Linked DNA regions of Homo sapiens: all the other regions are reported to be linked to region 1. Evidence: microRNA targets listed by miRTarBase, many of them from high-throughput screens and not tested one by one. Region 1 holds a microRNA gene; each other region holds the end of a gene's coding sequence.

The links. The annotated mature microRNA hsa-miR-374a-5p reads UUAUAAUACAACCUGAUAAGUG and lies in region 1 at 2,847-2,868, opposite strand. An mRNA with a match to its seed (bases 2 to 7 or 8) in the 3' UTR can be bound and repressed. Matches are read on the target gene's strand: a 7mer-m8 pairs with bases 2 to 8, a 7mer-A1 pairs with bases 2 to 7 and ends in A, and an 8mer does both.
Region 2: miRTarBase lists CREB3L2 as a target of hsa-miR-374a-5p. The part of its 3' UTR that is shown has no 7-base or 8-base seed match.
Region 3: miRTarBase lists GADD45A as a target of hsa-miR-374a-5p. Seed matches in the 3' UTR shown: 8mer at 3,223-3,230.
Region 4: the mRNA of LMLN is a reported target of hsa-miR-374a-5p. Seed matches in the 3' UTR shown: 7mer-m8 at 2,612-2,618 and 7mer-m8 at 81-87.
Region 5: miRTarBase lists SVIP as a target of hsa-miR-374a-5p. Seed matches in the 3' UTR shown: 7mer-m8 at 2,340-2,346, 7mer-m8 at 1,628-1,634, 7mer-A1 at 1,439-1,445 and 7mer-m8 at 320-326.
Region 6: miRTarBase lists PDE12 as a target of hsa-miR-374a-5p. Seed matches in the 3' UTR shown: 7mer-A1 at 3,252-3,258 and 7mer-m8 at 3,929-3,935.

What each region holds. Positions count from the first base shown.
Region 1 is chrX:74,284,479-74,288,570 of GRCh38, forward strand. It overlaps MIR374A (microRNA 374a), which reads right to left and starts at 2,879; the gene lies at 2,808-2,879. All of the region lies in intron 1 of FTX (FTX transcript, XIST regulator), which reads right to left. It overlaps MIR545 (microRNA 545), which reads right to left and starts at 2,731; the gene lies at 2,626-2,731. It overlaps LOC124905199 (a long non-coding RNA gene), which reads right to left. Exons shown (of 2, transcript XR_007068266.1): 2 at 3,387-4,092.
Region 2 is chr7:137,877,054-137,881,145 of GRCh38, forward strand. CREB3L2 (cAMP responsive element binding protein 3 like 2) reads right to left here. Exons shown (of 12, transcript NM_194071.4): 12 at 1-3,498. The coding sequence ends at 3,423. Among named protein-coding and RNA genes, the nearest start is that of DGKI, 32 kb to the left of the region's middle. RefSeq lists enhancers at 1,580-2,311, 2,312-3,045 and a silencer at 2,270-2,564.
Region 3 is chr1:67,687,369-67,691,460 of GRCh38, reverse strand. GADD45A (growth arrest and DNA damage inducible alpha) reads right to left here. Exons shown (of 4, transcript NM_001924.4): 4 at 3,127-3,800. The coding sequence ends at 3,687. Among named protein-coding and RNA genes, the nearest start is that of GADD45A, 4.2 kb to the right of the region's middle. RefSeq lists a silencer at 1,541-1,835 and an enhancer at 4,090-4,092.
Region 4 is chr3:198,037,967-198,042,058 of GRCh38, reverse strand. LMLN (leishmanolysin like peptidase) reads right to left here. Exons shown (of 17, transcript NM_001136049.3): 17 at 1-3,492. The coding sequence ends at 3,392. LMLN-AS1 (LMLN antisense RNA 1) reads left to right here and starts at 2,592. Exons shown (of 4, transcript NR_046669.1): 1 at 2,592-2,610; 2 at 2,835-2,912; 3 at 3,201-3,311; 4 at 3,396-3,738.
Region 5 is chr11:22,819,496-22,823,587 of GRCh38, forward strand. It overlaps SVIP (small VCP interacting protein), which reads right to left. Exons shown (of 4, transcript NM_148893.3): 4 at 1-3,638. The coding sequence ends at 3,624. Among named protein-coding and RNA genes, the nearest start is that of LINC02718, 7.9 kb to the right of the region's middle.
Region 6 is chr3:57,559,436-57,563,527 of GRCh38, forward strand. PDE12 (phosphodiesterase 12) reads left to right here. Exons shown (of 3, transcript NM_177966.7): 3 at 127-4,092. The coding sequence ends at 569. Among named protein-coding and RNA genes, the nearest start is that of PDE12, 5.2 kb to the left of the region's middle.

The DNA of each region.
Region 1 (4,092 bases):
AACATTTACCATTATCATGTCCATGGATAAAGATAAACAAAATTTCATGGTGCTTCCTAATTGAAACTGCAGCTGTTGCTAACAGAAAAGGCTCAAAGAATACTATTAGACAGTAGCCCAAATTAAAATTCCATTTGCTAGAATTCCAAAGTTATTCTAATGCTAAATATTGCCTCATTGGCATTTCAATATGACATTGTTGTTTCTCCTTTAGCAAGCCTTAAAGGAGAGAACCAAGCAGAAGCTGCTCAGAAAACCACCTACCCTAAAGGCAGAGAAGTGAGTAAGGTGCAGGGCAGTATATGACACTGGACCTGGACTTCCATCTTTCCTTCCCCCTACTATTTCCAGTAAACAACAGTGAGCTATAGCCATTTTCTTTCAGAAACAACGTGGATTCTCTCCCTGGGACTCTCATTCCTGCACAGATCTGCTTACACATAGTTGGGCTGTGCTGGTATTCATGCTGACTTAGAAGACAAAAATAAGAATGAAAAGAAGCTTTTTCAGCACCATGATGGGTCAGATACAGATGACATTAACACAGAAGACAGACAGATTTTTAAAACCTATTCAACAAAGATGAGTTACTGTGATAACACAAACAGTCCTGAATCTTATAGTAACATTTCAGTCACAGGCGCATATACAATGGTGGTCCCATAAGATAATAACACCACGTTTTTACTGTACCTTTTCTATGTTAGATATGTTTGGATATACAAATACTTACCACTGTATTCCAAATGCCTACAGTATTCAATACAGCAACATGCTGTACAGGTTTGTAGCCTAGGAGGAATAGGCTATACCATATAGCCTAGGTGTGTAGTAAGCTATACCATCTAGGTTTGTATAAGTACACTCCCCTATGATGTTCACACAACAACAAAATGACTTAATGATCCATTACTCAGAACATATCCTGTCTTTAAGCAACACATGACTGTATAGTTAAATGTTAATTATAAAATCTAGGTGTTGGGTACATGGCTTTTCACCGTACAATTCTTTCAACTTTTCTGTATGTATGTTTGACAACTTTCACAATACAATTTTGGGAAAAATCCAGCAAGCAGCTTTAAAAATATGGCTGTAAGACCTTTCCTTCTATTATATTTTATTCCTAGGATGATCCTATCCAACGAGATGAACCTATTCAGTGTTTCCTCCATTTTGTTTTAGATTTAGCTTTCTCAAATATGACTTTGAGCTCTCCGACTTTTTAATGAAGTGAAATGAATCAACATGTATTCATAGGCAGGTTACCAAGATAGTACATGTAAAGTTGGGGAGGCACAAGGGGAGGGGCTCTAAGCTCTTGGAAGTCTAGGCTCACTATCTGTATACATCTAAATAAATGAGTATTTCAGACACCCCACTTCTTCATTTAAAAATTAGTGTTAGGGACCCTCTAAACATTTGCCTCAGCTTACCTTTCTGCCTTATCTCACATTAAGTCCTTATTTCCCATATTCTCATTGCAAAGAACTGTGTAGGAAGGAGGGGGGCAAGGACGAAGGCACCAAAGCATGCTATGTCCACGTGCTTCAAGTTTGAATATAATAAAAGGTATTTCTAGAGTAGAGGTTCAAAGCTTGATGTTGAAGGGCAGGGTATAACTGACTGACTGCAGGACCCTGGGGGAGGTCTTATAATCTTCTACTTTAAAACATGTCTTAGCTGGCTTATCTGTAAAAGAGGAAAAAGACTTGTCACAAGCAATGACAAATGAAGTAAATAAATATGAATTTCTGGTCTGGTGAATGGAATGAGAAATGAAACCATCACTGTCGAGTGATGATCCAGAGTGGGCACAGATCTTTTTCTACAAAGGCTTTGTGGGCCACAATGTCTCCAATATATTTAATGGCAAAAACAGCAACTACTTTTGCACCAACCTAATAGCTACTTAATTGTGCCACTGGGCCGCAAAAGCGGCCCCAGGTAAAACATCGATGAATGAACATGGCTGTGTTCCAATATAGAATGGTATTTACAAAAACAGGTAGCCCATGGGCAATAAAGTTTGCCCACCCTTGGTTTAGAATATGGAGTCTGGTTGGGTGCAGTGGCTCACACCTGTAATCCCAGCACTCTGGGAGGCTGAGGGAGGTAGATCGCTTGAGTCCAGGAGTTCAAGAACAGCCTGGGCACCATAACGAGACCCCTTCTCTACGAAAAATACAAACATTAGCCAGGGGTGGTGGCACACACCTATAGTCCTAACTCAGAATGCTGAGGTGGAAGATCACCTGAGCCTAGGAGTTCGAGGCTGCAGTGACCCGTGTTCGCACCATTGCACTCCAGCCTGGGCAACAGAGTGAGAACCTGTCCCTTAAAAAAAAAAAAAAAAGAAAGAAAAATGCAAAGTCCTATCTAAGAATACTATTTGGATGATTACCTGGGCCCTGAGGATGAGGCCCCAATCTAACAGTTATCACTCAAGTCCCACCAAGAAAGCAAGTGTCAGCAATAGCAACAGTTGCAACATCTGTAAATATCAAGGACTGAAATCCAAACACAAAAATGGCATTGTCTCATGAGAAACTCTTAGGAAGATATATACAGAAATATCAAATTTCTGACCACATGCTTTTTGAAGAAACAGCTGACAATCCAGAGCCTGTGGAGCTCACTTTAGCAGGCACACAATAAATGTTTGCTGATGAGTCATTCATTTATTCATCTAATAAACATTTACTGAGGCCTACTAATGTGCCAGGCTGGGCTCTGGAGATGAAGACACCTTCCTTGCCCTCAAGGAGCTCACAGTCTAACTGATAACAGGAAGAGAGACAGGCATATACACAGACAATTACAATACAATCTGATAAGTGCTATAACACTTATCAGGTTGTATTATAATGGCCGATGTAAAATTTCTTCCCAGGGGGTGCTGCTCCAGGCTGCTGCTGGCTGTAACATCAAGAGAGGTGAGGAACAAATTATAGAAATCAAAGGTTAAATGCTTTTCGGTTATTTCAAATATTCAGGCTTTCCCTAACCCGTGGCCATAGACGGAATTGGGAACTAGACACTGGCATGATGTAAAATGGGACTTCCATGCACAGACTTCCAATAAAGGAACTTCTCAATCCCCTCCTCTAAAATATGAGCTTTTTTTTTTCCTTTTTGCTTATACTCCTCTTAACCTCCCCACCCTACTACCCACATGAGCCTGGTTTAATATCTACAGCTAGCAAAATGCTGAAAAATGGGAGCTTACAACTAACTGGATTAACCCAGTGTAACCGGATAGCAAAAAGCAGTAAGTAATAGCTCATTTGGCACTTCTAAATCCAATAATCCTCATCCTTCACTGGAAAAAAAAAGTTAGAATGTTATTAAATACAAAATAGATAATATACAGATCAGAGTAGGAATAAGTTAGAAAAGTTTATTTAATAAACATAATTAAACAGATTCTCTAAACTAGAAATAACATTCAGTTTCAGGAAACCAGAATTAGACCCCTCCAAGACCTTTGAGAATATCTAATTCACCTATGTATTATAAACAAGAAAAATGAAACAGAGAGATAACACACTCTGCCCACTCCCTTTTCAAAATCATGTGAGTGATAGTAACAGACTCCTTGAGGCAAGATTATTACTGTAATAGTTATTTGGTTCAGATGGTTTTATACAAAGATAAGATGGCATTTTTCTGTGCCTCATACCTTTCTTAATAATACCTAGGTTTTTACTGGCTTTTTTGTCTCTGACCAGCAAATAGGGCTGATAACATCAGCAAGTTGTTGACAGTTATACTGAGATCACTGTTTTGGGACCCAATGTCTCTATGAGGCTGTTATTTAATAAGCTTAACATACTATTTTCCCCTAAAGTTATTTCACTGCTCTTGCCTATACACTGTTCCTTTCTGCCAATTAGCCCACTCCTGGTGCCTTCTCACATGCTAGCGTGTTCCTATTAGCATTTCACATCCCCAAAGCATTTAACAGTATGTATAAATGTGGACACTTCAATATTGCCCATATCCTCCCTCAGACCACTCAGAAATATTTAAAATAAGACCAGTCCCTGAATGGATGGGGGAGAAGGGACCGCTGTTTTGTTTCTTGTCTAA
Region 2 (4,092 bases), not on the chromosome of region 1:
AATTTTAAAAAACACTTATGAAAAAATGCTGGACACTTGACTCACTGCCAGAACAAAGAAGAGCCAATTCAACATCCCAACTTTACGGGCACGTAAGATTCACAAGCTGAACCAAGAGATTTAGGAAGAAAAAAAAAAACATGGTAATTATAAGGGGTCTGTGAATAAGTTAAACTAAAAGCTGCTTTCACAATCTACAAATTAGGCCTCCAAATCAAAATCATTTATATTAACCAAAAGGTTATCTAATTTTGCCCATATTGGTGTCAAATCTCATCCCCACTCCCTGCCAAAAAAGAGCAACCTAGTTCAGCTGTCGGATTTTTATATAACACTCTCTTTATGTGAGCTAGACTCCAGAGTCCTCACACTTCACAGAAATTCTTTCTTAAAACTGGCACTGCAGCCTTTCATTTACAATATCCCTTTTTAAGTGCAAAGTCGAGGGCTGTGAAAAGAACCACGGTGGGGGGTCTGGGTTACTCAGGTCTTATCCAGTGAAAAATTAGTTCTCTGAATCTTTGCAAAACATCTCCTTCACTGGTGCAATCTAAGAAAGGGAAATGGGAAACTTGTTTACATGATGAAAAATATAATTAAGAGATTGACTCTTTATGGCTTATGGCCGCTCTGACAGACTCGTATTTCTCAAAACTTACATTCAGAAGACACTGTCTGCCACTATTTGAAATCTTTAGAGCTAATCATAAGTTAATGACTAGTCTAAGAGGCCACTTGGTGGGGAAAACAAATCCACTGATATTCTGGTCTTAATCCCTGAACAGAAAATGTGCACACATCCATTAACTATTTGGAACCAATCTGGTGCTATACAACTCTTCTGTGTCCTCTTGACCCCATTTTGTCCTCCTAAAGGGACAACTGTTAGTTCCTTTAACCCACTCAAGCAAGGAGTGGAGGGCAGAGGTTTATCTAAAAGAGCAGTGATGTTGGTTCTTGGAGCCCCCTTAAAAGGGCCATCTGAGCTCTCTGCCTAACGTCCCATTGTCTACATAGATTCCGTTTTGGAAGGATGGTTTCCCAGAGAAAGAGTCCTGCTGTTTGGAGGTCGAGAGAGAGTGACGTCAAGCAAGCGTAGTAAGGGAGAAAATAAAATCCTCAAAGCACTAAGGACAGGGGCTAGAAGTTTCCTTTATCTTCTCCCTCCTCATTTAGAAGAGCACGTTTCCTACTCTACGTCTGGGAGCCTTGAAAACCCAGTCTGGTTCAGTTGCAGCAGGTACATGGGTTGGCTCATTCTCTCACTTCTGCCCCTAAATTTGAAACCTTTCCTTCCTCATTGCCCAAATGCTACTTGAGTAAATCTTATCTTTTTGCCTTCTTTGGGCCCTATAGGCTGCCTATGCCTGATAATGACCTGACAGTTTAAAAGAGAGGGATGGGTCAGTGGAGGCCCATGGTTACCAGACACCAGCCAGGCCCAACAGGATCTGGGCTGCAGACAGTGGAGCAGAGAGAAGCAGAAGCAGAACCTACTAGCAACCCTCCTCCTGCACAGCTCAGACAGTCTCCGCCCTGGCTAATGGGAGGGACAACAAGAACCCTCCAGACAACAGGGCTGCCAGGACTACGGGGGCCCGATCCAGCTTCCACTCACAGTGAGAAGATGAACTTGGCCGCTTTCCAGGCTGGAACCGTCTCCAGCATAGCAGAGAGAGGGGAATCACTCACAGGGAGCCCCAAATGGGCCTAGACAGACAAGGCAGGGACCGACTTATGAGGTATGACGACAAATGTTAATAACATCAAATCCTGTACCTGATATGGAATGGAAGCCAGGGTGTGGGCTTAATCCCTCTAAGTACAGGCTCCAATAACAATGCAGATGACGTGTGTGGGGGTGGGTGGTGGGGGGAGAGAGAGAAGGAGAGACAGAGAGAGAGAGGGAGAGAGAGAAGCCAAAACCAAAGGCATTTCAGCTGCTAATAAAAATAAAATACAAACTCTATGCACATTTCCTACACAAAATCTTTCCCAAGCTCGGAAAAAACACTTGAGGGTTTTCTACATTACACAATAAAAAGGCAATTTCCACTTCTTATTTATATGAAAGAGGAAAGATTTTTTTAAACTACAAAAGTTACTTTTAACCATAAAAAAAAAACAAAAAAACTAAAAGTAGGTTGGGGATTAGGTTGTATCTCTTTGGGCGAGCTGCAAAGTAGCCAAACCTGACTACCAAAGGTAAGAATGTGGATACACAAATGTCACCTACCCCACCCTGCTTTGTTGAGGTAGGGGACGAGGAGGACAAAGTGGAAGTGTGGAGGGAGGAGGGGGCCAGGCAGGTGTGGAAAGCCAGCAAGGTTGTCTGAAATGTCTGTTGTCAGAACAGGGCTTCCCCTTCTCTGTCATGAAAACAGGATAGAAAAAGCTTGTGGCCAGGGAGCCCGGGGCCTGAGTGAGGCATTGTGTCATCTCTCGCTCTGAGCTCATCCTAGAGGCAGACACATACATGCTCAAAGGAACTTCTTTTTCAATGGTAATTATTCCAGTTAAAAGAAAAAACAAAGGAAAGGAAACAAAACATTGTCTGGAAAGACACGGGATCCCAGAGCCTAGGGTGCCCTCCTAGCTCTGAAGGCTCGCAGAAAACTTGGCTAGCTTGAAAGGAGGCATCGATCTCTTCAGTGTGGTTGCTAGCAGGAAGCCTCGGCAAGCTAATAAATACTATTTACAACTGGGGAGGAGAAGCTGGGGAGGCAGAACTATGGATGTGTGGGGAACCAGGTTGTGGGAGGTCCTAAAAGCGACAAGATGGGGCAGGTTTGCCTGGAGTAGAAAAGCCTGATCCCCTCAGGCATTGCACTTGCGGCCTGAGAATATGAACGAGAGCCCTCGCCTGCCAGTGCTGCTGCAGGAGACGAGACGATCCAGCGAGGGCTCCCAGGGGGCAGAGTGGGCGGAGGGCTGCTGTCGGGGGTGTTCACACCAGAGACCCCAGTGCGAGCAACGGAGGACACGGGTCAGTGCTTTGCCAAATACCAACAGGCATTATGGCATTTTTGTGGCCAGAGTCTGGGGTCTTGACTGAACAAGAGCCATCTCGTCTCCAAAGCGGGGGGTTACACCTCACAGGTGCACATTAGGCAATATCTTTTTGGCACTATTGGTGGAAACAAGCCTGCTTGTCCCACCTCCAACCCCTAAAATAATTTCCTATGGCAGTAAGAGAAAGGAAGGGAGGGATGCAGGCTCCCTTCTGCACAGGAGGGGCATGGACCAGGGGGAGATGCTCTCTCACTGCAGGGAAGTCCCAGGCTGGTCTCCAATCTGAAGCCACTAATGCTTGCCCATGTCTCCATGAAGATCCAGTGGCAAAGAGGAAAAGCTGATGACAAAGGTGGTTTGGGGATGTAAAAGTAGAGTTAAGGGAAAGGGAGGGGGTGCAGGCAGCCTCTTTAGAAAGTGGTGTTCACTCTTCTGTCGAGTTCTACAACTTTTAGTGTTTCATTCCCCTCCAGTTTGGCGCTGACCCTGTGAAGGCATTAAAAGGAAAACGAAGTATTAGTCACCAGCTGTTAGCTACAATTCTCATGCTTTGTAGCGTGATGCAATCATTCAGGGGTTGCAACTTGGTGAGACGGCCTGGGCATGTTTCTTGTCCTTTTCTCTCCTAGTAGCAATTCTCTGTTTCCAAAGTCCCCTGCTACCAGCCTCTCCACTAGTCCACATTCCTACCTTTATCTACACCCAAGGCATCCCAACCCTACTAAGGATAATCATGGTGGCTTGATATTGATCTGCTATGAGATGCATTAAATTATTCTATTTACTTAGGATGTTTAGCCCTATGCTAAACTCAGGGAAGGAGAAAATAAAATGATAAGAGCTGATCCTTGGCCTAGAAGAGCTAATAATCCAGATAAAGATTTTTAACAATGAGCTAATTTGAAATAATAATAAATCCATAACAGAAAATAAATACATTATTAAATTGTGTAACAACCTGGAAAATTTCTAGGCATTCAGAGGAGGGCTAGGAGGCTTTGTTATCTAGGAGACATCACAGAACAAATGGGATTTGAAGTGGGCCTTGAACAGCTTAGCTGAGAGAAGAGAAACTGTGTC
Region 3 (4,092 bases), not on the chromosome of region 1:
GGCTACATCTTTGTATTCTTCATAGCACCTAGCAAAATTATATTCAATATTCAATCAATCGATCACATTTTTGTGCTGTTTGCAAAATACGATGCTAGCTTATGAACAAAGAGTTTACAACCTTTTTCTCCATTCCATTCCTATATGCCTTCTGGAGATTTCTATCCTTTGAACTTCCAGAACAGTTCTCTGGGCCTTTCTTACGTTGCTGGTAATTTTCTGTTTTGTATTTATGTAGTGATACGAAGTCCTTGAGGCCAGAGTGTGTGTCTGATTTTTTTTTTTTTTTTTTTTGGTAGACTTCAATATAGCCAGCATAGTCCCTTGTCCACAGTAAGCACTCACTTAATATTTCTTGGTGGTTTTCATGAATACGACCTTTTCACAGAGGTTCTTATGTTTACCAAAGTATTGTTAAAAAGAAAAAAAGTATTCACTTCTTTGAGGGATACTTACTTGGTGTCAAATCATGCCACTGAGTTTTGTTCATTTGAAGAGAACTTATCTCCCAAATTTCAGTCTTTTACCACATATCAAAGAATAAAATTCTACCTATATAAATGAAAATTAAGCAATTATTTCACAAGGGCTCCAGTAAGGCATCTCAAAACATGCTTTGGAAATATTTCAATTGACAGTATACAAATAATTCTTTCCTAAAAAATGACCCTTTTTTCTTTATTTGGGAACTAAGGTATGTATTATAGGAGATTAGCTACTTTCATGGGTCCTTTCATTATAAAAGTTTAACTTACCAAGATCCTAGGTTAAGTGTGGAAAGGAGGAAGCAATGCTATTTATGACACTGAGGTGAAGTTGCCAGTGGAAAAATTAGGTATTTTCCACTTTTCAACATTCAATACACCTTAGGTAGATGAGGGGATTTCTGTTCTTGTTGTAACGTAGCTTGCAATAAGTACATTTAATGGTTTTTAAGGCAACGACTAAAGAATATTTGCATCAATTAGAGATAGAAGCCATCCAGGTAATTTTATATTTGTTTAAAATTAACTGTTTCATGATTGGGTTTTTCAATGCTGTGTTAACTTTATGTTATGCTCAATCAGGAAAGAAAAACAAGAGTTTAAAATTTTTGAAGAAACCAAATGGCATTACAGTAATTGTTGAGATTTTCCTCAAAACAATCTGAAGAATGTATAAGTACTATTACATATCTCTAAGCATTATGAATTTAGAATAAAGATCAAAAATTCTTTTTGAAAAACATAGTTATATAGATGTACATGTCATAACACAGATCTCTCTGATGCCTTAAGTTTTCCTATTGCTATCACCTGGGTTTTAGAAACAGCCACACTCCATTGAGCACCTATCATGTGCCAGGTAGTTTGTATTCATTATTTCTAATCATTCATTTATTCAATAAATATTAATTCAGCACCTACTGCTTGCTGGCACTTGTGTCCACTACTGGGCTACAATAATGAACCAGACATTACCTGCCTTGAGGGAGGTTGCAGAGTTGTAGGAGAGGCCACAAGTCTGCAAGATAGGTAATCTTATCTCCATTTTACATGAGTAAAACAGGATGAAGAAGGACTAATCAAGGCTAGCTGCTACTGTGCTCGTTCCACTAAGCAAACCAGCTTTATCCACTGTGTGTCTCCACTTTAATTCATTCATCTCTGCAAGAGGGTTCTTACCAAATCGTTGTGAAAAAGGGCTGAAAAAAACCTTACTTCAATGGGAAGGCAAAACACCTTGCTATTTAAAACTCACTGCTCTCAATCTTTTGGTAATGTAAGAAACAAATATTAAATACCAGTTATGTTTTGGAGTGGGCACTGGATTTTAAAAAGATACAAGAAGCCTAAATAAGCCTAAAAACCCACATTTCTAGCAGATGTAGAAAAAGTCACTTGTGAAAAGATACAAGAAGCCTAAACAAGGCCTAAAACCCCACAATTCTAGCAGATGTGGGAAAAGAGAGTCATTTGCAAGGTGAAGGGCTCATGGAGCTATGTATTCATAATATATGCAGAAACTTGGAGCTTTTTGTTGCTATTAGTGGGTTTTCCCTACCCTTTCTTCTGATTGTATGTAGTCATGACTAGGATGAAAGACAGATGGCAGGGGAGCCATAAGGGGGACGGTTTGAGAAATAGGATAAGAAAATTCCTGTGGACAAAAGCAAGGCTAGGCCTTGCCTCCATAAGCATTTTTGCTTTCTTTGGTCTATGCCTACAAGATTGTTGGAGTTAATTATCAAGTGACTGTTCTAACTAAAAATGATTGTTCTACTGAAGACTTTTCTTTTGCTTTTCTTCTCTGCCATCTATTCCATCTGATAGAATTTAAGCAGACCCCTCAGAACCATAGAAATGTTCAGCTGGAAAGCACAAAGCTTTAGGAAGAGACTAGGGGCAGCAAAAAACCTTGCCTGGCCACTTCCCTGTTTGCTCTGTAAAAATGGTTCTGCAAAATGCACAACCTTGGATTCTTAGTCACTTCCTAACTGGCCTTGTCACCTACAGCTGCTCATCCCAATAATCATCTTTCACAGACCCCGGTGTTACTTTCCTAGAACACTGATCATGCCACTTCCTTCAGGGGCTCCGCTATCTGCCTGAAGTTTACAGAAGGAAGCCCAAATGCATAAGGGTAACACAGAATGCCTTCACAGCCTGGGCCTAATCCCCACCTTCCTTTTCAGCCCCGCTGCTCCCTTATCTTTCTACACCAGAGGCACACACACAATCACTCTGTTTTTACTGACCTGGTTGTGGTCTTTCAGGCCTCCACACCTTTGCACAAACTAATGCAGCTGCTAGCAATATCCCTTTGCCCTCTGTAACTAGGGAAATAAAACTCACTAAGACCAACATAAAATGATCTCTCTTCAGTAAAAACTGGTAGGTAACTTTAGTCACTCTGTCCTCTCTGCCTCCTCAACATTTTGTGTATAATCTTATTACGGCGCTAATATCATTTATCTTTAATTATTCAAATTTTGCAAGCTGAATCTCTAACCATCCCTTTTTCCTGACAACTCCAACTCCTTTAAATCACCTGCTTTCTGATTATAGACCTGGTATACAGCAAAGCGTCAGTAAAATGTGTTTAATAAAGTACAAGTTAAAAGAAACAAGAGCACACAATAAGAAATGATGCAATTATTCATACCAGTTTATTGTAGGTATTGTGTTTCAAAAAATTTATAGCATAAATAACTTTTCATGTCATAAAATAACTTAGTAGAATTTATAATAAAACTTTGAGAATTTAATATCTCATCAAAATACAATAAAATATGGTTTTCAAATATGATTAACCCTTTCGGCTTTTCTTTTACTTGAGGGCATATAAACCAAAAATACCCAAACTATGGCTGCACACTTAAACTTTAACATATTTGGTTTATTTTAATGTAACTCAACCATTCTAAATTAATACATAGTTTTCCTTCCTGCATGGTTCTTTGTAATTTTTGTTCCTTTTGACTTATTTTTCTGTTTCAACACAGCTTCCTTCTTCATTTTCACCTCTTTCCATCTGCAAAGTCATCTATCTCCGGGCCCCCAGAACATGTAGTTGAACTCACTCAGCCCCTTGGCATCAGTTTCTGTAATCCTTGCATCAGTGTAGGGAGTAACTGCTTGAGTAACTACAAAGGTATTTCAAAAACTTCAGTGCAATTTGGTTCAGTTATTTTCATTCAGATGCCATCACCGTTCAGGGAGATTAATCACTGGAACCCATTGATCCATGTAGCGACTTTCCCGGCAAAAACAAATAAGTTGACTTAAGGCAGGATCCTTCCATTGAGATGAATGTGGATTCTGGAAACAAATTTATAAAAATAAACTTATTTTAAAAACCAGTATATTCTAGTAATTATACTTTTGAGGAGAAAACACTTGAACATTCTATATTTTGGCTATGTGACATGGAGACAAATTAGAAGCACAAAAAAATTAAAGTTTCTTCAAGGTAGTTGGGTTCCCTGCAAAAGCGTTAAGGGTAATTACCTATTAAACTACACATTGCAAAGTCTGAACCCATGCAACCCAAGCTGAACCACATACATATGTTTGCATATCTGTTCAGTTTTGCATGAGAGTATCATTCACC
Region 4 (4,092 bases), not on the chromosome of region 1:
CCAGTTTCACATTTGTCCAGAGAAAACACTGGGCGACCAGGTTCCCAAGCTTAATAAATATATATACAAAAAATGTCATCTATAATATTTTCTTCAGAAAGCCATTAGTGCAAATATAATTATATCAATAAAAAATAAAGCAAAAATATATTTCAAGTATAAAAAGCACCATGCTCAGAAACAATACTACCTAAACGGTGCCACTACACAACAGTCAAAATATAGTCGAACCTATCACTGTGACTCTCAAATATATGATTAATTCATTGTATTTTTGGTAAAATTCTTCATTCAGCTTTGCAGGATGATTCATAATCATAAGAAGTATATGTTTAGATTATTGTAAGTTTCTTTAAAAATAGACTCTTTGCTTTGACTTTTAATTTACACAATTTAAAGTATGTACAACATAGGCAGAAAATGAGCACTGGCCCGCAGACCATTACGCAGGTTGAGCATCACTTACTGAAATGCTTGGGACCAGAAGTGTTTCAGATTTCAGACTTTTTTTTGGATTTCGGATATTTACAGATACCTAATGAGGTATCTTGGGCATGGACCCAAGTCTAAACATGAAATTCATGTTTCATATATAACTACACACACTGCCTGAAGGTAATTTTATACAATATTTTTAGTAGTTTGTGCATGAAACAAAGTTTGTGTTAAGTACTTGTATGTGGAATTTTCTACTTGTAGTATCAGGTCAGCATTCAGAAAGTTTCAGATTTTGGAGCAATTTGGATTCTGGATTTTTGGATTAGGAATGCTCAACCTGTATTAGCTTCTTTTTAGTTAAGTTGACTATGTTTGAGATTCCCAGCTTTTCACAATGACAAATACCTCCCATTTAAAACTGCATGCAAATACATACTTTAAATTTATGCATTTGAAAAAAAAGCGACTTTCCTCTGTGCTGGGGTTGCTGTTGGCTCTAGTGCCAAATAATCAGAATTAATTCTTAGTAATTATGTTGCTTTGCTCACTTAGCATAATTTCTTCAATGGAGTACTGAATAGCTATATGCTGAATGGACGAAAAGCAGGGAAGGACGAGGAAAGGAGGAACAGAAGGAGTCTGTCCGAGGGTTGTGGTTACAATGCCATGGAGGAATAGGAGGAGTCTGTCCGAGGGTTGTGGTTACAATGCCATGGAGGAATAGGAGTCTGTCCGAGGGTTGTGGTTACAATGCCATGGAGGAATAGGAGGAGTCTGTCCGAGGGTTGTGGTTACAATGCCATGGAGGAATAGGAGGAGTCTGTCCGAGGGTTGTGGTTACAATGCCATGGAGGAATAGGAGGAGTCTGTCCGAGGGTTGTGGTTACAATGCCATGGAGGAGTAGGAGGAGTCTGTCCGAGGGTTGTGGTTACAATGCCATGGAGGAGTAGGAGGAGTCTGTCCGAGGGTTGTGGTTACAATGCCATGGAGGAGTAGGAGGAGTCTGTCCGAGGGTTGTGGTTACAATGCCATGGAGGAATAGGAGGAGTCTGTCCGAGGGTTGTGGTTACAATGCCATGGAGGAATAGGAGGAGTCTGTCCGAGGGTTGTGGTTAGAATGCCATAGGACTTCATTAGCTTGAGAGAAAGAATGGGCATCGCCTATCATTCATGAATATATTTTTTCTTTTTTCTTTTCATATTCTTGTTAAACCTCATCTAGCCATTAAAAATTACTAAATGGGGCTGGTAAGCTCTAGTACCAGTGTAAAATTGCTTCTGGGGACCGGAATCTATGTAGTAACAGGAGGAGTGTCAAATGCAGAAGGTAAAGGATATTTAAAGCGAAGGCAATCTTCCAGCTTCTGTGGACTGAGTCTTACTTAAAAGTGGTACAGTGGACGCTACTGGATAGGCTCTACACCAAACTTATACCTTGCTATTAGTACACAATTCAGACCATCCTTCTTAAACATAAAACCATTTTCAGATGTTAGAAATTCTTCTGCAACAATTTCTTAACCCATTTTAAAAAACTGCATACCCGTCTTTACCAGAATTTCTTTTTATCTTCATCGGTCACAAAGGAATAGTTGTGTTTTTGTTGTTTCACAGTTGTCTTAAGTATTATCTAAAACAATACAATTATTTTTTTTCTGTTTGCATGTCTTCCATGTTTTTACAGGGCAGAGTATTTTACTCTCTCGGCTTCCACATTTTTTCATGTCATTATTAAACTCATGGAGAATACAACCAGAAGCTGAGCTCTGAAGAGGGATGAATACAGAGGGCTACCAGCACAGTGATAGCAGTTCTGGAAGCTGGGCTCTGAGGAGGGATGAATAGAGGGCTACCAGCACACTGACAGCAGTTCTGCCGTAAACTGCCACATAGCTGGCAAAAAGGGCAAGCACGGTTAAATCATAAGATTTAATGAAACATTATTTAAAAAAATTCTTTAGAACAATGGGAACAGTGAATTAAGTTTACTATATACCAGCCATTAATTTTTTTTTTTTTAAGATACAGGGTCTAACTCTATCGTGCAGGCTGGAATACAGTGGTGCAATCATAGCTCACTGCAGCCTTGAACTCCTGGGCTCAAGCGATCCTCCTGCCTCAGCCTCCCAAGTAGCTGGAACCATGCCTGGCTGCCATTAAATTTAAAATAGGTATAATAATGATATGTAGAAATCCCAATTCCATTATTTTCTATAACTCAAAGGACAATTTATACTTTTGAGGACAAGATCTCCAATTCTAATCTTGCAATAATTGGCTGTTGTTTAAGTGACTGCAGTATATGGATGATGAACTTTCCCATTGTTGTATGTTAATAAAAATGTTGAGGTATGTAATCACTCTGAAAATTCCACCCATTATCCTATTTTCAAAGGAAAACTTTGGGAAGATTACAAACCCTGAAAAATGAAGACTTGGTGGCTTGCAGTTCCTTCTCCTTCTCCAAGATGAGGTGGTTGGGTTGCTGAAGAAGGTGGTTGGTTTGCTGATGAAGGTGGTTGGGTTGCAGATGAAGGTGTTGAGTTGCTGATGAAAGTGGTTGGGTTGCAGATGAAAGTGGTTGGTTTGCTGATGAGGTGGTTGGGTTGCTGATGAAGGTGGCTGGGTTGCTGATGAGGTGGTTGGGTTGCTGATGAAGGTGGCTGGGTTGCTGACGAGGTGGTTGGGTTGCTGACGAGGTGGTTGGGTTGCTGACGAGGTGGTTGGGTTGCTGATGAAGGTGGTTGGGTTGCTGATGAAGGTGGTTGGGTTGCTGATGAGGACAGGCTGCTGTGAAGTTCTGCTTCAAGGTCTGATGGTCGTCAATTCTTCCAAGCCAAAGCCAGGAATGCCACTTCTACCATCTGCATAGGTTGGCACTCACTCAAACTTTGTGCTTTGTTCACAAGAACATAACATAAAAGAATATCTTGAAGATCCACTTTTCCATTCCTAGTGCCATATACACAGAAGAAATCCAGCCAGCAGAGGAAACAGATTGCCTAGCAGAAGCCAGAGGGTGACCACCAGGCTCGAGGAACAGGAACAAAGATCTAGAGTTGAAAACAAAAAACTGACTTTCTATAAACAATTTTGGGATAAATCATACCAATTAAATATTGACAGATGAAGAGCAGTGATTATTAAAAAGTAAACAAGGACCACCTTGAGAGCTAAATCAAGAGCAAAACCCAGGTATAAAAAAGTTTTTGTTTCTTTTTTAATGGAGGAAAAATATATATGGAGGAAGAAATGATGTATCCACTATGTCAAGGTTAAAAAATGGTATCCAAAAAAAATTGCCTTGGGGTAGTACCCCAGCAAAGATAAAGATCTTGGTTATTCTGAGATGGGGTGAAGAACTTTCTTCTTTTATTCTTTCTTTGTACCTTCTAAGTAGGGTGACCATATAATTTATCAACACAAACTAGTACATTTTGAGAATGCAAGGGTGAGTACTATTAATAATGACAACAGGCAGACGGACTGTGAGGATGCAAGGGAGAGGACCATCAATAATGACAACAGGCAGACGGACTGTGAGGAGGCAAGGGAGAGGAGCATCAATAACGACAACAGGCAGACAGACTGTGAGGAGGCAAGGGACAGGACCAGCAATAACGACAATAGGCAGACGGACTGTGAGGATGCAA
Region 5 (4,092 bases), not on the chromosome of region 1:
GCGCGGTGGCTCATGCCTGTAATCCCAGCACTTTGGGAGGCCAAGGCGGCAGGGATCACCTGAGGTCAGGAGTTCGAGACCAGCCTGACCAACGTGGAGAAACCCTGTCTCTACTAAAAACACAAAATTAGTCAGGCGTGGTGGCACATGCCTGCAATCCCAGCTACTAGGGAGGCTGAGGCAGGAGAATCACTTGAACCTGGGAGGCAGAGGTTGCGGTGAGCTGAGATTGTGCCATTGCACTCCAACCTGGGCAACAAGAGTGAAACTCCATCTCAAAAAACAAAACAAAACCAAAAAAAGCCAATGCAATTCAGGATATAATAACAAAAAAGTATGATATCCACAGGAGTAATGTATGAATACTTAATTTGTAGGCAATAGTTATCACATTCAAAGTCAATATTTGCAAGATGAAGCATAACTAGAAGAGGGAGACTAGAACAATAAAAAGCCATATCAAATGGGAAACTTAGTGTTTTGAGTTACTGGAACCAAAACTTCATCAAAGTCTGTTATACATACAAATGCCTTGTGTCTGTAGCTTTTGAGAAAATTGAAGAAAAAAGCCACAATACTATATTTGAATTAGCTTAGAGCATGTTTAGTAGTTAAGAGAATTTGAAATGCTTGCTTGGAGATGTTAAAGAAATATACCTTATGTCTCAACACATATAGGCAGTCATGGCTACTTACCTCTTACTGGTCTATTCATGCAGAAATTATTCAAAACTGGCAAGAGCTGCTTTTGTCTTCTAAGAACATAGCATAATGCTTATCAGTGAAAATAAAAAGTCAAACATTTGGAGAAAGGGAAAATTCAAAGTTCATGTCCATTTTCCTGGGGTACAAAGGATAGACAGAATTTTTATGATAGTATTATTTCTTTAGGAAAAAACAGGATACTAATTACATCATTTTTCCTTTATAGAAAATCCACCTATAAATCCAGGGATTGTATGAACACACCAAACAACCTTTGGTTCTGTTGCTCTTCTGAATCCCAATGTGATTAAAATGTTCCTGAGGTTTCCCTAACCACCAACTCAGGTTCTAAGTATTTAGGATGTAGTAAAGATAAAATTTTGTTAAAGAGACAGCTAAAGCTAATTTTTACATAGAAAAAAATGTATATTTATATCCCTAAAAGGCAATACAGAATTTATAACCAAACCATGTGTGAGAACTGTTAAATTACATTCCAAATACCAGCAGTGGAACAAACAGAAACACAGAGATGTTTTAAAAAACATGCAGCACGTTACAAAGAGGCCGTGTAATAATTCACAACTTTTGTTAGCAGCCGTTAAGTTTGATTAGTATTAAGCAGCAATGGTTTAAGCAATTTTAAATCATGATATGATAGTTACATATATGCATTTTACTGTTCCAATTATAGTTTAGTAATAGGTCAGGGGTTTGAGCAACATTTTAAGCATTATAATTTTCTCCTAAATTATTTACTATGGGAAATTGGCTTCCACTTAAGGTTTTCATAGAAACTGATGGTTATTTTATGAGGGAGATGTCTGGACGTATGTGTGTATGTGCATGTGTGTGTGTGTATATACACACACATATATAAATTAGAATTTGCAGATATTATGTGTATATATATACACACATATATAATATATATATTATATATATATATAATTTTTTAGTCATGTTTTTAGTCATTTGCTTTTTTTTTTAGTCATTTACCGGTTTCTCATAAGACATCCAGTCACTTCTTTTCCCTTGCCCTTTCCTAACACTGTTCCTAACATTTGGGTACCACCCCTTAGCTCCTGCGACCCATGTGGTTTTGGAGAAAGCTGATCACACTCACGGTGACAGGCCATGGTTGGAAGTAACATGTTCCACTTTTCACGAAAAGTAATAGATCTGAATATCATTCATGGTTAACAATAGATAGTGTGACATTTGGGTATGACCTGCTGGTAGAAATAGGGCATGATTCCCTGGAAGTAAGTCACTTACACCAACCCAAGTTCTAATTCTTTAAGATGTAGTAAAGACAAAATTGTTCTTGCTATATTAAAATGGAAGAAAGGATTTGCAGAGTTCAAGGATGATATGCTCTAGCTCTATATGCACTCCGCTATCAATCATTCCTTTTACTTTCTGCCTTGAAAAAATCATTTTAATAAAATCAAAAATTTTCATTCTAAAATATAGTTCAATGATTTCACTACCCTTTATGAACAAAAACAGCACGAATCCTCTAAAGAAGAAAATTGAGCCAAATTGTTATGTTTTGCCTAGATATTCACACAATATTTCACACCATAATAGAAAAAATAATTTTTCCATGAGAAGTCAAGAGACCTGTATTATATAATAGTTCAAACTTTTAAAAATTAACATGTACAATACACTGCAGTATAACATAATTTTTGTTGGAGGGGTAGATGAAGATAGTGGCTCAGTTTCCTTTGTGTAAAGCAAGTGAACTTGGTCGATTTAACTTAAAATTTCTATTAGCACTTAATATCTGCAAATTTTAATTTAGGGCTCAACATGTGGCCTTGCCATTTAAAAGAGCTATCAGCCTTAATAGCTAACACAAATTCTTTTATTTCAGTGTATTATATAGGAGAAACAAAAAATGCTATAAAATTCATGTTTCTAATGAACAAAAATGTTAAGGTTTATGACTATGCATTGTATAGAATTACCTAATATTTTTATATCTGAAGTAGACCTTTTGTAAGTACAGTACCTACATGTTTTTTTCATACATTCATACTTGCCTTCGCAGTTTCACATCTGTATAAATCTTATGATCGTTCTCTAATAAGTACACAAGATTAACACTACTTATGAAATATGGACAAATATATTACTACTCATTATAACCCATCCAGATTATTAGTTTAACTCATTCAATTACTACAAAGATCCTTACAGAGCTGAATTTAATATACAATAGAACATCACTGCCCTCTGATGGTATCACTAATATATAATTTTAAATTCAGCAAACAAAAAATCCTTTATCATAAAGTAAAACAGGGTATGTTAATTTTATAAGCTACATAAATAAAAATAAATTGGAAAAAATTTTACATCTGCCTAAGAATACTCATTACTAAGTTATAAAAATTTACAGTGCTCCTTCACATCAGCCCTTCAAATGATTTTTTCAAGATTCTCCCTGATGATCAGTTTAAAGGCACTAAGTCCATAAGTTTAATCAAACATCTTCATAGTGAAATAAAAACAGATGTAACGCGATGCAGCACAAATATAAGTAGTTAGATCATTTTATAAAGGATGAAAAGACAACTGCGAATTTTAATCTTAGAGGTATATGCAGAATGTTTACATGCAGTGTATGTATATTCACTATTTAGTTCCATTTTTTAACTACTAAGAAAAATAGCAAATCACCCACTAACTGCAGAAGAGCAAATGTAGGAAAATCAGTATTTAATGAAAAGTCTAGCCATTCTCTAAGCTTGAAAATCAACGTTTTTTTAGCATTGCACTTAAGGGCAATAATATTACAAAGTCTGAATCTTCATTTACTCAAAGAGAAGAAATTAAATTGATGAAGCCCACTTGATTGCAGATAATAAACAGTTATTGGCAGTAGATTCTTCTACTCATGTTATGCTTTATGAAACTGTCCACTAGAAAAGATAAAAAAGAGACAGAAAAGTAAATTTTACTTGAAGTTATATAACAGTACTTCAGTGAACAAACAGGTAAAAAGAGGAATATGGGACATAGAAATACAAAATGATTTTTCTGAATAGCAGCTATTCATAAAATTTTACATTATAGTCCAAAGCCTGAAATAAGATGATAGTTTAAAAGCATAAAGAAGACAAAATATCTGGTCAGATTGGTGGGTAGTTGCAGGATAGCTCTGTCTCACTGTCTTGCCTGTAGTTTTCAAGAGTAACTGTAGAATGTGCTGGGAATGTAACATCCTGGGATAGCAAATGAATGGCCAAGGACAGCTCAAGTTCTGTTCCAGTCCCTCCCTAAAGACAGGACGTCCTTCAATGCTTTAGCCCAAGGAGTCATGTAGTACCTCCCCTTCTAACCCCCAGGTCATAAAACCCAGGGCACTCATCTGAG
Region 6 (4,092 bases), not on the chromosome of region 1:
TTTAAAGTGTTTTACACAAATGCATATCTTGAACGTCACCCAGAGACTGTAATTTGTGTAGTTTTTCTTTTTTAACTTAAAGACAACTTTAAAAAATACTTACATTAATGTTTTTTATATTCATAGGTGGGTATATTCGCCTCATTCAAATGGCAGTAGCCTTGGCTCACATAAGACATGTTTCATGTGATCTGTATCCTGGCATACCAGTTATATTTTGTGGGGACTTTAATAGTACACCATCAACAGGAATGTATCATTTTGTCATCAATGGCAGCATTCCAGAGGATCATGAAGACTGGGCTTCCAATGGGGAGGAGGAAAGATGCAATATGTCTCTTACACATTTCTTCAAGCTGAAAAGTGCTTGTGGTGAACCTGCTTACACAAATTATGTTGGTGGCTTTCATGGATGTCTAGATTACATTTTCATTGACTTAAATGCTTTAGAGGTTGAACAGGTGATTCCATTACCTAGTCATGAAGAAGTTACCACCCACCAGGCCTTACCTAGTGTTTCCCATCCCTCTGATCACATAGCACTTGTATGTGATTTAAAATGGAAATAGATGTGTGTTTAATGGAATTGAAGTCTGAAAAGGAAGTAGTTATTTTAGCAGAAAATTTAATATGAATCAAAGCTTATATGTAAACTTCAAGGAGGAATGGTAAAATGTTCAGCCCTCCTAGTTATGTTCCTGATGTCTTCGTTATGAAACTGTTGATGTTTGCATCATACATCTTCTCTTTCCTTGTTTTCCTCTACAATTGGAGGAGAAACAAATATATTTCTTACTAGCAAAATAGAAAATTGAATTATTTTTCTCCAAATTGAGACTCTCAGAAAAGGAAGATTGAATTAGCGTGTTTTTTGTTTGTTTGTTTTTGTTTTTGTTTTTGTTTTTTTGAGATGGAGTTTCACTCTTGTTGCCCAGGCTGGAGTGCAATGGCACAATCTCGGCTCACTGCAACCTCCGCCCCCTGGGTTTAAGCGATTCTCCTGCCTCAGCTTCCCGAGTAGCTGGGATTACAGGCGTGCGCCAACATGTCTGGCTAATTTTTGTATTTTTAGTAGAAATGGGGTTTCGCCACGTTGGCCAGGCTGGTCTTGAACTCCTGACCTCAGGTGATCCACCCACCTCGGCCTCCCAAAGTGTTGGGATTACAGGCGTGAGCCACCGCACCCGGCCCTTGTGTACATTTTTATAAGAGAATTTTTTTAGCTAGGAGTTCAGAATTTTTAAAGTACCATTTGAATGATCTTAATTTTTCTTTCATGACAACACATTCCAAAATGAATCATGCTTATGTACTAAGAGGGAAAATGTATTTAAGTTAAGGGTGAGAGACTTAAGTTATAGGTGACCTTAGAGACCTAAGGTGAGAGACTTGACACATGGAAGGAGTAACATTAGGGTCTACCTCTACCTCAATTTAGTTAGCGATTTACTACAATTTCAGAGCTTTAACAAAAGATAAAAATAAATCGTCACCAATTGTTATTGCTTCTCATCTTTCATTTTTCAATGAACAAGTAAGGTATTTTCATTCTTATTTTTAGGATTTTAGTTTTTAGTGTATGGTACAAATGAACACAGTTTATATTCTAATTCTTACTGCAGCTCATTTTAATTTTTAGGATGCAAGCACAATTTAGTATTCAAAGTGAGTAGCAACATATTCAACTTGATCCCATTGTCTTCAGTTACTCTTGCCCATGAAAAATGTTCATAAATGAACAGGGTATTTGACCATATGATATTAGAAAATACAGCACATTACTTTATGAGAAACTACCTACTGATATGGGCTTGAAATTTTGGATGAATCATTGAGCATTTCTACACTAGAAGTAATTTCAAAATTGTTGGTTTTTATAAACAGGAAAAAGGTTGAGTAGTGGGACTTTTAAGCATCTCTGAAATAAAAAACTTCTTTTTACAGACAAGCATTATAGTTTGAGTTACAGACAACAGTGTGTATATATGTAATATATATATAGTAAAATGAAATTTAAATATGAAGCCAAACTTTTTAAAATTAGAAACTACAAATGGTTATACTGATTAGTGTCTAGCCTAGAGTGGTAACCATGCTTTACTAATTCAGTTATGAAATACATTATTTATAATGCATTAGCTGTATTAGCTGTTGCTTTTTTGATGTTCAGGATAACTATGTTATCTCATTTCTGCATTTAATTAATAGCTCGAGTATTAAAAGCCCACTCCCTTCAAGAAAAGCTTTGATTTTCCCCAGTCATGAAAGCCCTTGTTTCAAATTCTTTAATCTCTGAACCTAGTATCATAAGAATTTCCTCTTTTGATAACATCTGTACTTTCATATTCTGCTCACTATCAAATGTATTGTTAACACTTAGTAAGTTTGAAAATGAAGGGGTTTTATCTGCATTTGACATTGAACCTTGAAGTACTTTAAGTACTCCAAGGGGAAAATTAAAGTGGAAGTTTCTTCGGATCTTGTTTAGAAAAAACTATAAATAAAAAATTGATGCTACCAAATTGTGCCTTCCTAAATAACATTTTTGAGAGCATTTTAACAGCAGTTTACAAATATGTAAATAATAGATTAAAACCAAATCTTGATTCTCTTGTGAATTTTTTTTTCATTTTAAAAATATGTTTTTGGGCTGTTTTCAAAGAAAGATGTTGATAGAACCCTTAGAGTGACTTGGGAGAAAACAAAGTGTCACATCAAAAAGTTGAGAAACATTTTGAAAGAAAAAATTCGAACATGCCCATGAAAAAAGCATACAGCTTCCACATTAACACTGGCTAGATTAAACTCTAGTCAGAAAAACTCAGCACTTAACAGACATTCCATGTCCTATATCCTTAATTTTGATGTTTTCTGACTAAACAATATACTCAGATTGTATACAGGCATTTCACATTATTAGGACATGGAATGTTATTGTGAAGTGCCATATACTGTGATCAAATCTCCAGTATACGGATACGTTAAAATGATTGGAGTCCAAAGGTAGGGAACACTAAGAAAATGTATAAATAGCATACACATTTCTTTGTACTCATGAGTTAGAATGCAGTGTTATTCAGAAATGTCTGTTTAAAGCACCTATGTGATTGCATTTTTCTATTACATTTGGATTTTTTAGTACATTTAATTTTAAGAAAACATGGGAAATCTAGCGACTTTCTATGGTAAACCACATTTTATAATGTCACAAGTTCTTGCTATAGGAATTAACATTCTAGAATTTTATATTGATTATAAAAGAGTATTTCAGAACATATTATTCTGTTAAAATGAACTCTTGCACAGTTGCCGCTACAGCAAATGTGTCTGCCAATAATCAAAATTCATGAGCAAACAATCGTTTCTGGCTGTAATGTATGTTCTTTTTGAAATTCTGTATGCTAAAATCAGTTGTTTCAAAATTTCAAGAATTCCACTGAGTAGTGATTTTTCTGAGTACTAAGCTATGATCTCATCAGAATGTGCTGGTTTCAGTCTGGAGATAGATTTCTGAGGAGCCTAATACAAGGGAGAGAATGTCCAAAGAACACTACTGTGGAAAGTTCTTACGATGGAAATTGACATCTTTTGTATCTCATTCTCCAGCCGTGAAATAAAGGCAGAGGTTCCCTGCAAACTAGTTTGGTTGGGATAAATCCAATATTTATATATAATGAAAAATAAAAGTTTGCATTATTAGTTTATCACAAGACCCATGTGACAACTCAGAAAATATTCTCAGCATAATTTTTTTAAGAGATAGAGTCTCACTGTTACCCAGGCTGGAGTGCAGTGGTGCAGTCATAACTTACTACAGCCTCAAACTGCGGGGCTCAAATGATCCTCCTGCCTCAGCGTCCCAAGTAGTTGAGATTACAAGCCCAACCTTCCATAACTGAAAACTAACTTTCTTTTTTTCTTTTTTTATTATTATACTTTAAGTTCTAGTGTACATGTGCCCAACGTGCAGATTTGTTACATAGGTATACATGTGCCATGTTGGTTTGCTGCACCCGTTAACTCGTCATTTACATTAGGTATTTCTCCTAATGCTATCCCTCCCCCAGCCCTGAAAATGAATTTTTTAAACAC